2 separate regions of the Homo sapiens genome follow, and region 2 is linked to region 1. The links come from fine-mapping of genetic effects on gene expression. A gene starts in region 1. The other region holds a variant in brackets. All regions are shown on one strand. Distances are from middle to middle. Region 1 holds the start of A1BG (alpha-1-B glycoprotein). Region 2 overlaps ERVK3-1 (endogenous retrovirus group K3 member 1).

Region 1 (5,343 bases):
CCTTCGCCTGCGCAGAATGCGGCAAGGCCTTCCGCGGCAGCTCCGAGCTGCGCCAGCACCAGCGCCTGCACTCTGGCGAGAGGCCGTTCGTCTGCGCCCACTGCAGCAAGGCCTTCGTGCGCAAGTCGGAGCTCTTAAGCCACCGGCGCACGCACACGGGCGAGAGGCCCTACGCTTGCGGCGAGTGCGGGAAGCCTTTCAGCCACCGTTGCAACCTCAACGAGCACCAGAAGCGGCACGGGGGCCGCGCTGCGCCCTGACCCGAGGACGCCCTGAGCGGGAGGTCGCGGACACACGGCATTGCGGGGTCTCGGGCGTGAGTGCGCTGTCTGCTGGCCCAGACTTTTTCGGGCCGCCGGTGCGGGCGCCCTCCTGCTGGGAGTGCAGGGGCGGCCTTGGGTGTGGAGAACCCTGGCTGCACAGTCCCTTTGACGATAGTCCACCGGCCACCCAGGCCTGTCTGGGGACATGTAGGATGGGCTCTTACCCCAGGGAGGGCGGCAGGCTCCACTTCGGCGAGAGGTTCGTCCATGCAGAGGTGGGCAAGAACTGGGGTCTCCGACAGGTGTGGCTATTTCTTTGAGTTCTCTGGCACTGTCAAAAGCAGCCAACCCACCCCCCAGTCCACATGGTCACCACTGCTGCTACCAGCTGCTCAGTGCAGTGGCCACTGTGTCTCCTAAGGTGCTCGCTTCAGTCAGCACTTCATCTCAGGCAACCACAGGTGACAGTTAAACATGATGAAACCGCATGCTATGGCTTTCTAGTGTCTCATATTCTGTTGGCAAGAAGCTCAGCACTGCATTCCTGACCGAGGTCAGAACCAGATCAATCTCAGAATCTCACCTGTGTAGGTCTGTTTCATGGGACTTTTCTTTTTTGGGGGAGGGGGCAGGGTTTCACTCTGTCACCCAGGCTGGAGTGCAGTGGTGCAATCACTGTTTATTGCAGCCGCGACTTCTTAGGCTCAGGTGATCCTCCCACCTCAGCCTCCCAAGCAGCTGGGATGACAGACTTGCGTCACTACACCTGGCTAATTTTAAAATTTTTTGTAAGGACAGTGTCTCACCATGTTGCCTAGGCGGGTCTCAAAACTCCTGGGCTCAAGTGATCCTCCTGCCTCAGCCTCCCAAAGCGTTGGGATTATAGGCGTGAGCCACCGCACCTGGCCAGGGAACCTTCTTTATACCAAGTACCACACCAGTCAGAGTCAAGTCAGGAAATAGAAACCACACTAGGTATTTCAAACAGAGGGGATATAAGTTAGGGACTGATTGTGCAGGTTTTGCAAGGCTCAGAGAGCAAAAGTGGATGTTGCAGAATCTCAGAGCTGGATACTTGCAGGAAGCTGCTACCACCCTTAGGGCTGGAGAACCCAGGGAAGCTAAGAGGAGGGTGCAACGAGGCTGGTGTTGGGACTGCCAAAGGAAACACAGAATGACAGCTCCATCTCTGCAGACCTCAGATTTGACCAGGCCTCTGGCTGCCTGGGCAGCCTCATTGCCAATGGGCTGAAAGGTTCTGTCACTGTTCAGTGGTCTGACTTCTGAGTTCTGTGCACACCCTGAGCTCTGCTCCTCTGGCCTGGCCACCAGTCCTTGTCTGAGTGCCCCAGGTCTGGTTATGACTTCAGGCCTCAGCACCTGGTTGTCTCTTCTGCAAAGAATGCATTCTCCCCCAGTCCACCCAGAACACACAGCCTCCATCCAGGTACTGGCTCTGAGCAGGACAGAGAGCATGCAGCAGGTGCTCAGCAATATGGAAATGGGACCAAACAGAGGGAGTCTCCACAGCTCCCCGTCCCTCACAGCAGAAGCCAGAGCCGCTGCAGTGCCCAGCTGGTCTTCATCACGTCTATGAGCTCTGCAATCGCTCTGCAGTCGCCTCAACTCCTGGTCTCCTCTGCTCCTTCTCACTGCACCCGCATCTCCCATGTTTGCACTGGCTGTTCCCTCTGCCTGGAATGCTCCTTGCCCAGTTATCCCACTGTCTTCTTTGCATCTGGCACACAGTAGATGCTCAATAAATGCCTGTGGAATGAATGAGTGGGGAGGATGCAGTGCAGGGGGCAGATGAGGGCTAGGCGGTTGCCCTGGGCCCTCACACTCGTAGCGGAGCTAGGCTGGGACACCCAGGGTGGGGACCAGACCTCCCCGGGTGGGAATGACAGGATGTCCATGGAGGCTGAGTGTGAAAGCACCACGGTCTCACCCCTGTCCTGTTCCATCCCAACAGGCTGTGGTGAGGAGAGGGGGAGGCAGGGGAAGCGGGAGGCCTGGCCTCCAGGCAGCAGGCTATAGCCACATGAGTGACCACCAGCAGCTCAGGTAACTGAGCACATGTCACGGGTAGGCCTGGGAAGCGCAGGTCTCAGCTGAATGACCTGGGTGGAAATCCGACTCCAGAGCCGTGGTGGGTCACACCATGCAGAATGAACCAGTGATGGAGAAGGAACCACAGTCCTCAGGAAGAGTGAGGGTGCACCTCCAGACAGCCCATGTGAGGGCAACCGCAGAAAGTCTGAAAAGAGGTGAACCCCACCTTTGGTGTCACATGTGCAGTGTGGTGTGACAGGGAGGGGCTCGCTGGGCTTCAGCCCCGGCACTCTCCACTTGACCTCAGCAGCTCCAGGTAGAGTGGGGAGAACTCAGCGTCTCCTTCTAGAACAGGTTCTAGGATCCATCACTGAAATGAGGATGAGGTGGTTTTAACATCATTTTATCACTCTTGATTTAGTTTATTAATCATACATGATTATTGATTATAATTGTTGCTGGGCATCCTGAGGCCTCAGAAGTTCACCCTTTGCCCTGACCCCATGGGGGCCCTGCCCCCGCCTTCCGGGAAGGACAAACACGGGAAGAGGTCAGTGCCCGAGCCACCCCACCGCCCTCCCTTGGGGCCTCATTGCTGCAGACGCTCACCCCAGACACTCACTGCACCGGAGTGAGCGCGACCATCATGTCCATGCTCGTGGTCTTTCTCTTGCTGTGGGGTGAGGCCTCCTGGGGTCTGGGTCCCTGGGGCGGGAGGGGGCGGGAACAGGAGCCTTACGGGGGCTGTCTCCGCAGGTGTCACCTGGGGCCCAGTGACAGAAGCAGCCATATGTGAGTGCAGGGGTGAGGTCTGGGAATGGTGGGCCCAGGCCGGGGGGGAGCCCTGTCTCTGTGGCACTGAGCTGATCCCAGCCACCCCTTGCAGTTTATGAGACGCAGCCCAGCCTGTGGGCAGAGTCCGAATCACTGCTGAAACCCTTGGCCAATGTGACGCTGACGTGCCAGGCCCACCTGGAGACTCCAGACTTCCAGCTGTTCAAGAATGGGGTGGCCCAGGAGCCTGTGCACCTTGACTCACCTGCCATCAAGCACCAGTTCCTGCTGACGGGTGACACCCAGGGCCGCTACCGCTGCCGCTCGGGCTTGTCCACAGGATGGACCCAGCTGAGCAAGCTCCTGGAGCTGACAGGGCCAAGTGAGCCGGGGCATGAATTGGGGGCCAGGAGGCAGTGGGTAGGTTGTTGACTGGGGGGTCTCCCTTCCTCCAAGTCACCCGATGTCTCTGAGCCCCAAGCCCCAATCTTCCCATCTGTCAAATGGGGATGATGTCTGTGTTGTAAGGAATACATGGTTGTGTCCCCAGCAGGCCCGGCATGCCGTACAGCTCCCACACACTCTTTTTCTCTTGCCGTATGCCTTGTTTCCACTGGTGCCTGCCTGCCTTTTCCCAGCAATGCCCTCCATCCCTGTCTCCTTCACAGTCTTATGAGTGTGGGGCCCAGGTTCTGCTGGGCTTCCCACGTCTCCTGTTATGCAGAAGCACTCTTCAACTCCACCCCACCCACAGAGTCCTTGCCTGCTCCCTGGCTCTCGATGGCGCCAGTGTCCTGGATCACCCCCGGCCTGAAAACAACAGCAGTGTGCCGAGGTGTGCTGCGGGGTGTGACTTTTCTGCTGAGGCGGGAGGGCGACCATGAGTTTCTGGAGGTGCCTGAGGCCCAGGAGGATGTGGAGGCCACCTTTCCAGTCCATCAGCCTGGCAACTACAGCTGCAGCTACCGGACCGATGGGGAAGGCGCCCTCTCTGAGCCCAGCGCTACTGTGACCATTGAGGAGCTCGGTGACTGTGGGAACCATCTCTGGGGGCTGCTGGGGGAGGAGGATACAGGGGGCATGACCACATTCATCCTGACCTCCATGCTGAATGTCCTTGCCCAGGACCAGGTCCAGGAAGCTGGCCACACGGTTGCCTGGGTCTGATGGTTGCAAAGGAGTTTGGGCAGAGGATGCCCAAAGAATGGAAGGGTGAGGCCGGGTGCGGTGGCTCACGCCTATAATCCCAGCACTTTGGGAGGCTGAGGCCAGCGGATCATGAGGTCAAGAGATCGAGACCAGTCTACCCAACATGACGAAACCCCGTCTCTACTAAAAATACAAAAATTAGCCAGGTGTGGTGGCAGGTGCCTGTAGTACCAGCTACTCAGGAGGCTGAGGCAGGAGAATCCCTTGAACCTGGGAGGCAGAGCTTGCAGTGAGCTGAGTGGCGCCACTGCACTCCAGCCTGGGCAACAAGAGCGAAACTCCGTTTCAAAAAAAAAAAAAAAAAAGAATGGAAGGGTGTTCCTGGGATTGCCACCCGGAGGGCAGAGGTCTGGGGACTGGGCAGAGGGCAGCTCCAGGGATGGGGCAGCCTAGTAATGCTGCCTGCATTGCAGCTGCACCACCACCGCCTGTGCTGATGCACCATGGAGAGTCCTCCCAGGTCCTGCACCCTGGCAACAAGGTGACCCTCACCTGCGTGGCTCCCCTGAGTGGAGTGGACTTCCAGCTACGGCGCGGGGAGAAAGAGCTGCTGGTACCCAGGAGCAGCACCAGCCCAGATCGCATCTTCTTTCACCTGAACGCGGTGGCCCTGGGGGATGGAGGTCACTACACCTGCCGCTACCGGCTGCATGACAACCAAAACGGCTGGTCCGGGGACAGCGCGCCGGTCGAGCTGATTCTGAGCGATGGTGAGCCGGGGCCAGCAGGGACAGGGACGCGGCTGGGTCCCTGGGGAGCAGGAGCAGTACCAGGTGTAGAGTCTGGGGAAGTGCAGTGCTCTGGGCCAGGGTCCAATACCAACTTTATCCGCCCACCCGCCGATTCAGGGTCCTAAACTGCAAATATGATGATGAGCGTGACAACCTTCAGGCCCCACAGGGAATAACTGGGTGAACAGGTCTGGCCCAGGCCACAGGGGGCACCACCTGGCAGGTCCCATCCCAGCTGCCAGGTCTAGGTGAGCACTGAGGGCCTCTGCTGAGGCAGCTCCTCCGCTCGCTTGCCTTGGACCTGATGGTATTTA
Region 2 (5,368 bases), 35 kb after region 1:
CTGAAGCTGAGGAACACACAAAATTTTCTTCTTAAAGAGCTAGACTCTGTGACACACACTTCAGCATATAAATTTTACCTTTTTGGTTCTGGGCAATAAAACCCCAAACTATATGGTCTACCTTAATACAAGGCACAAACAACTGCAAAAGCATCTTTTAAAAATATGTATTTTTTTGGGCGGGCGCAGTGGCTCATGCCTGTAATCCCAACACTTTGGGAGGCCGAGGTGGGTGGATCACGAGGTCAGGAGTTCAAGATCAGCCTGGCCAAGATGGTGAAACCCCATCTCTACTAAAAATACAAAAAGCTGGGTTTGGTGGCGGGGGCCTGTAATCCCAGCTACTCGGGAGGATGAGGCAGGAGAATCACTTGAACCCAGGAGGCGGAGGTTGGCAGTGAGCCGAGATTGCGCCACTGCACTCTAGCCTGGGCGACAAAGCAAGACTCCGTCTCAAAAAAACAAAAAAACAAAAAACAAAAAAACCCACATTTTTTAAATTTCATTTTTGTCTTGGCAAAAACTGAAATAAAGTCTTCTAGGACTGCTGAGAGGAAACCTGTTCATACCTGTGTACCTCCTACCACTTGGTTAGCATCCATGGGAATCTAATTAAAGTGGAAGTGGCCATTGTGCCCCTTGATAATTATGGAGAAGTATCTCCATGTGACATCTGAAAGACATATCCTAGGCCCACTCCCAGCTTCCTCACCCGCCCCGGTGACCCTGAAGGGAGAAATGTATAATAGGGGCTTCTCACACTGACCCTGATTTCCTCACACTCACAGTCCCTCTTCACCTGCCACCCCGGTGCAAAGGACAACACACCAAGGATAGATGGGAAGATCTCTGCCATATTTGGCACATGCCCAGTTCACTGACATACAAGAACCAAAGCGTCACTGAGGGCTTTCTGATATCCATGTATTCACATGGTTTTCCCTGGGAATGAATTCTCTGGTGCTGGGCCAGGAATCTGCTTTGGCGGAAGGCTTTGCCACACTCACAACACTCAAAAGGGCTTCTCTCCAGGGAATCCTCTCATGTAGTACAAGAGTTGTGGCCTCCTGGAAGGTTTTCTGACATATATGGCATATGAATGGCTTGGTACATGCATGCACATGCTGGTGCTGCGTGAGGTGTGTGCCACGGCTGAAAGGGTCGTTCCCCAGCGTGTACCTGGTAATACTCGGTGAGGTGTGACATCTGGATGCAGGACTTGCCACACTCATTCCACTTGTAGGGCTTCTCCCCATTGTGAGTCCTCTGATGGAGGGCGAGGGATGAGGTTTGCATGAAGGCTCTTCCACAGTCACCACACATGAAGGGCTTCTCTCCCATGCGGACTTGCTCATGCTGGGTGAGAAACTTGCTGTGGCTGAAAGTCTTCCCACATTTTCCACATGCATAAGGATGCTCGCCTGTGTGCACCCGCTGGTGTAGGACCAGGGCTGAGGAGTCACCGAATGGCTTCCTTTACTCACCACGTATGTACGGCTTCTCACCGCTGTGGATCTTGAGGTGCTGGGTCAGGTAGGACCCCTGGCTGAAGGCCTTTCCACATTCTGCACACACATAGGGCCACTCACCTGTGTGTACCTGCTGGTGCTTGCTGAGGGATGAGCTGTGGCTGAAAGCTTTCCCACATTCCTGACACGCATACAGCTTCTCTCCCGTGTGGCAGCGTATGTGCTCAGCCAGGGACAAGCTGGGGCTGAATGCCTTGCAGCATACCCGGCACTCGTAGGGCCTCTCACCCGTGTAGGTTCCGTGGCATGCAAGGAGGGCCGAGAAGTCAGCAAAGGCTTTGCTGCTCTTGGCAGGCAAATGGCTTTTCCCCGGTGTGGAATCACCAGTGCTGTACAAGGTGTGTGCTCTCGCTGAAGGTGCGTCCACACTCACCACACACGTATGGCTTCTCACCTGTGTGCACACGCTGGTGCTTGGCAAGGGATGAGCTCTCTCGGAAGCACTTGCCACAGTGGCCACACATGTAGGGCTTCTCGCCTGTGTGGACGTGCCAGTGCTTGACTAGAGATGAATTGTTGCTGAAGGTACACCCACATTCCTGGCATGCATACAGCTTCTCACTGGTGTGCTGAACAAGGTGACTTCTCTGTCCAAAGGCCTTGCCACACTCTTCGCACGTACAGGGTCTCCTTTTGTTGGGAATCTGCTGATAGCTCACAAGGCACGTGTTCTTGCCAAAGGTATCTTCCCACCCACTACATGGCAGTACACCCTCCCCAGCGTGGACTCCTTGTGGCTGATTAAGGTCTGGGAAACAGCTGCAGGCCTCCCCACATACACCCTCTCCTTGGCAGGAGCACCCCTGATCTAGGACGGAAACACACGTGAGATCGTTTTCCAGAATGTGGTTAGGGGTGGCTTGTGTCTCTGGGGGAGTGCC[C/G]TGATATTCAGTAACAAATGGATGCCAGCTGGAAATTCCTGCCAGGCTCCACTCTCGGCTCTTCATGCCACTGACTGACCATATCCCAGCTCTGGGCCTGTTTCCTAGTTTCCTCACTAAGCTGAGCACATGTACGTCTGTAAAAAATATACATGTATTTTTGAAAGCACAAAGTTTCACATCTCTGCCTGCCAGTCACTTACCAAACAACCTTTGGTTTAACTTTTCTGTGCCCCAGTTTCCCAACCTGTAAAAGAGGGTAATGATGATAGCTCCCCTTTGATTGGTTGAGAGTACCATCAAAGGTGTTTGCTGAGCAGCCTGACCTGCAGGAGGTGCTCAGGAAAGGGGAGCTGCTGCTGTCATTTGGTGGAAGTGGGTCCCCTTATTTGGCTAGCAGGGCCTGAACACTGCCACACTCCAACACATTGTCTCCACGTTAAGGAACTCAGCATCACACAGCAAGCCCTCGAGAAGCCCACAGCCAGAGGCAGTGTGGGGGCAGCAGCATAGATGGCTGTGGCTGCCTGTGGGGACCCAGCCTAGGTCCAGAGGAGGTACCCAGATGAGGTGGGGTGTCTGTGTGGACGGCTTTCTGTTTTAGAGGCAGGCGTCTGAGGCACAGCTCTTAAGCATCAAATCAGGAAGCCTCTTTCTGTGGAGCCCCAAGCCCAGTGACCCCCTTGCCTTCCTGGGAGTCAGGAGCAGAAGGAGGGTGTGCAAGTGGCATGGCTCTAGGCAGCAAAGATGCCATGAGGTGTTCGTGTTCTGTTTCACAGTCTTTCCACAGAGTGATGCCATTCCATCCTCCTGGGAGTCTGTCCCCATCATACTCACCATAACTCAAGGCATCTGCTAGCCAGATAAGGGGACCCACTTCCACCAAATGACAGCAGCAGCTCCCCTTTCCTGAGCACCTCCTGCAGGTCAGGCCACCCAGCAAACACCTTTGGTGGTACTCTCAACCAATCAAAGGGGAGGTATCATTACTCTCTTTTACAGGTTGGGAAACTGGGGCACAGAGAAGTTAAACCAAAGGTTGTTTGGTAAAGTGACTGGCAGGCGGGGACGTGAAACTTTGTGCTTTCAAAAATACATATACATGTTTTACAGAATTACAAGTGCTCAGCTTAGTGAATTTGGTAAATGCACAGCCCTGTGTAACTAGCATTCAAATTAAATTCTAGAATGTTCTGTGAGGATGGAAAAGTTCTGGAGTTGTGCTGTCCAATATGGCACCATCAGTGTCAGGTAGCTCCTGAGTACTGGAAACATAGCTGGTGTGACTGGGACATGGAACTTGTAATTTTATTTGAATTTAATCATAACTACCATATTGGACAGCGCAGGGCTAGGACATTTCAGCACCTTAGACAGCTCCCCTGTAGTAAGTAGCCCTTCCAGGAAAGGTGTCCCAGCCTAATTTTTTTTTTTTTTTTTTAAGACGTAGTTTTCCTCTTTTGTCCAGGCTGGGGTGAAATAGTGCAATCTTGGCTCATTGGAAGCTCTGCCCCCCGGATTCAAGCGCTTCTCCTGCCTCAGCCTCCCGAGTAGCTGGGATTATAGGCACCTGCCACCATGCCAGGATAATTTTTGTATTTTTAGTAGAGACAGGGTTTTGCCACGTCAGCCAGGCTGGTCTCGAATTCCTGACCTCAGGTGATCTACCCTCCTTGGCCTCCCAAAGTGCTAGGACTACAGGCATGAGCCACCGCGCCCAGCCCAGCCTCTTCTTGAACTTCATGAAAATTATGTGCCCTGTTATAGTCTGAGGCCTCAGCTCCATGCTATCAGGCTTCAAGGACAGCAGCCACAGGATACCTCTATGAGGACTATGTGAGAACAAAGTGAGATGTCAAGTGGGTGAGTGCTCTAAAGAGAAAAATTGATCATTCCTGCTGTACTGAATTCAGGTCCTAACAGAGACTCCCAGGAGGAAGGGCAGATGTGGGGCCTTTTGTTCCTTCCCACGAGACAAGAGTACTGAACAGACTATTTGGGCCCTGATTTGCCCATTACCCACACCTTCCTCCCCATCTTATTCCTAAGCTGAGAATGGCAAGTATGATGGTAGAGGCTGTCAGATCTAGGATCAAATCTTCACCACTCTCTGCTGTAATTCTGGGCTGCTCACCTCCCTTGGGGTCTGTTTCCTATCTATAAAATGGAACCTCCTGTGAAAAGCTTTTTGCTCATTAAGGAATGAATTACATTTAACAAAGTTTTGGATTTTATTAATAAAATGTATGGACATGTTTTTCTCTTGTTAGATAGGTACCTTTGTAACATTCTTGGTTTTCTCTCTGAGCCTACAAAGCTGACATTTGCTGCTTGTGTGTTTTTTGTTTGGTTTTTGAGACAGAGTTTCGCTCGTTGCCCAGGCTGGAGTGCAAAGGCACGATCTTGGCTCACCACAATCTCTATGTCCTGGGAACAAGCGATTCACCTGCCTCAGCCTCCCGAGTAGCTGGGATTACAGGCATGCATCACCACGCCCAGCTAATTTTTTGTATTTTTAGTAGAGACAGGGTTTCACCATGTTGGCCAGGCTGGTCTCATAGGCCCAACCTCAGGCCTGCCTCAGCCTCCCAAAATGCTGGGATTACAGGCATGAGCCACTGCGCCCAGCCTGCTGCTTGTGTTTTACAGAAGAGTTTGCCAACCATACTCTGATGGCCTGGGCAGTGATGGAGGGTTTAAAGAGAGGGGTGGCCTCATCAGTCAGGGGTAAAAGACCCTCTCTACCCAATGCTGAGTGGAGAGTGATGAAGGGGGCAACGGGAGGCAGGAGAACCATGAGGAGGTAGTGGTGTAGAGCAGGCTGAGGAAGGCAGGGCAGTGGAATGAAGGCAGCAGAAGCAGGGTGTGTTTTAGAGGGATATCTGGTTTCTGAAAACATCTAGCCCTGTACCTGCCTCCTGTGCCACTGTGACTGCCACCCCACCATCTACCTCACTC

What was found. PIP is the estimated chance that this variant, and not a neighbour inherited with it, causes the effect. A credible set is the group of variants that fine-mapping cannot tell apart.
Region 2: its variant is the best candidate, but not a certain one, in a credible set for the expression of A1BG in whole blood (TOPMed, PIP 0.80).

What each region holds. Positions count from the first base shown.
Region 1 is chr19:58,351,056-58,356,398 of GRCh38, reverse strand. A1BG (alpha-1-B glycoprotein) reads left to right here and starts at 2,907. Exons shown (of 8, transcript NM_130786.4): 1 at 2,907-2,995; 2 at 3,072-3,107; 3 at 3,202-3,471; 4 at 3,844-4,116; 5 at 4,712-5,008. The coding sequence starts at 2,962. It overlaps ZNF497 (zinc finger protein 497), which reads left to right. Exons shown (of 3, transcript NM_198458.3): 3 at 1-2,042. The coding sequence ends at 260. It overlaps A1BG-AS1 (A1BG antisense RNA 1), which reads right to left and starts at 4,429. Exons shown (of 4, transcript NR_015380.2): 1 at 3,355-4,429; 2 at 2,925-3,020; 3 at 2,542-2,685; 4 at 1,216-2,030.
Region 2 is chr19:58,316,067-58,321,434 of GRCh38, reverse strand. It overlaps ERVK3-1 (endogenous retrovirus group K3 member 1), which reads right to left. Exons shown (of 4, transcript NM_001396080.1): 4 at 4,623-5,368. All of the region lies in intron 2 of LOC105372480 (a long non-coding RNA gene), which reads left to right. It also overlaps the pseudogene LOC100887072. Among named protein-coding and RNA genes, the nearest start is that of ZSCAN22, 8.2 kb to the left of the region's middle. The variant C/G (reference allele first, on the strand shown) is at 2,411.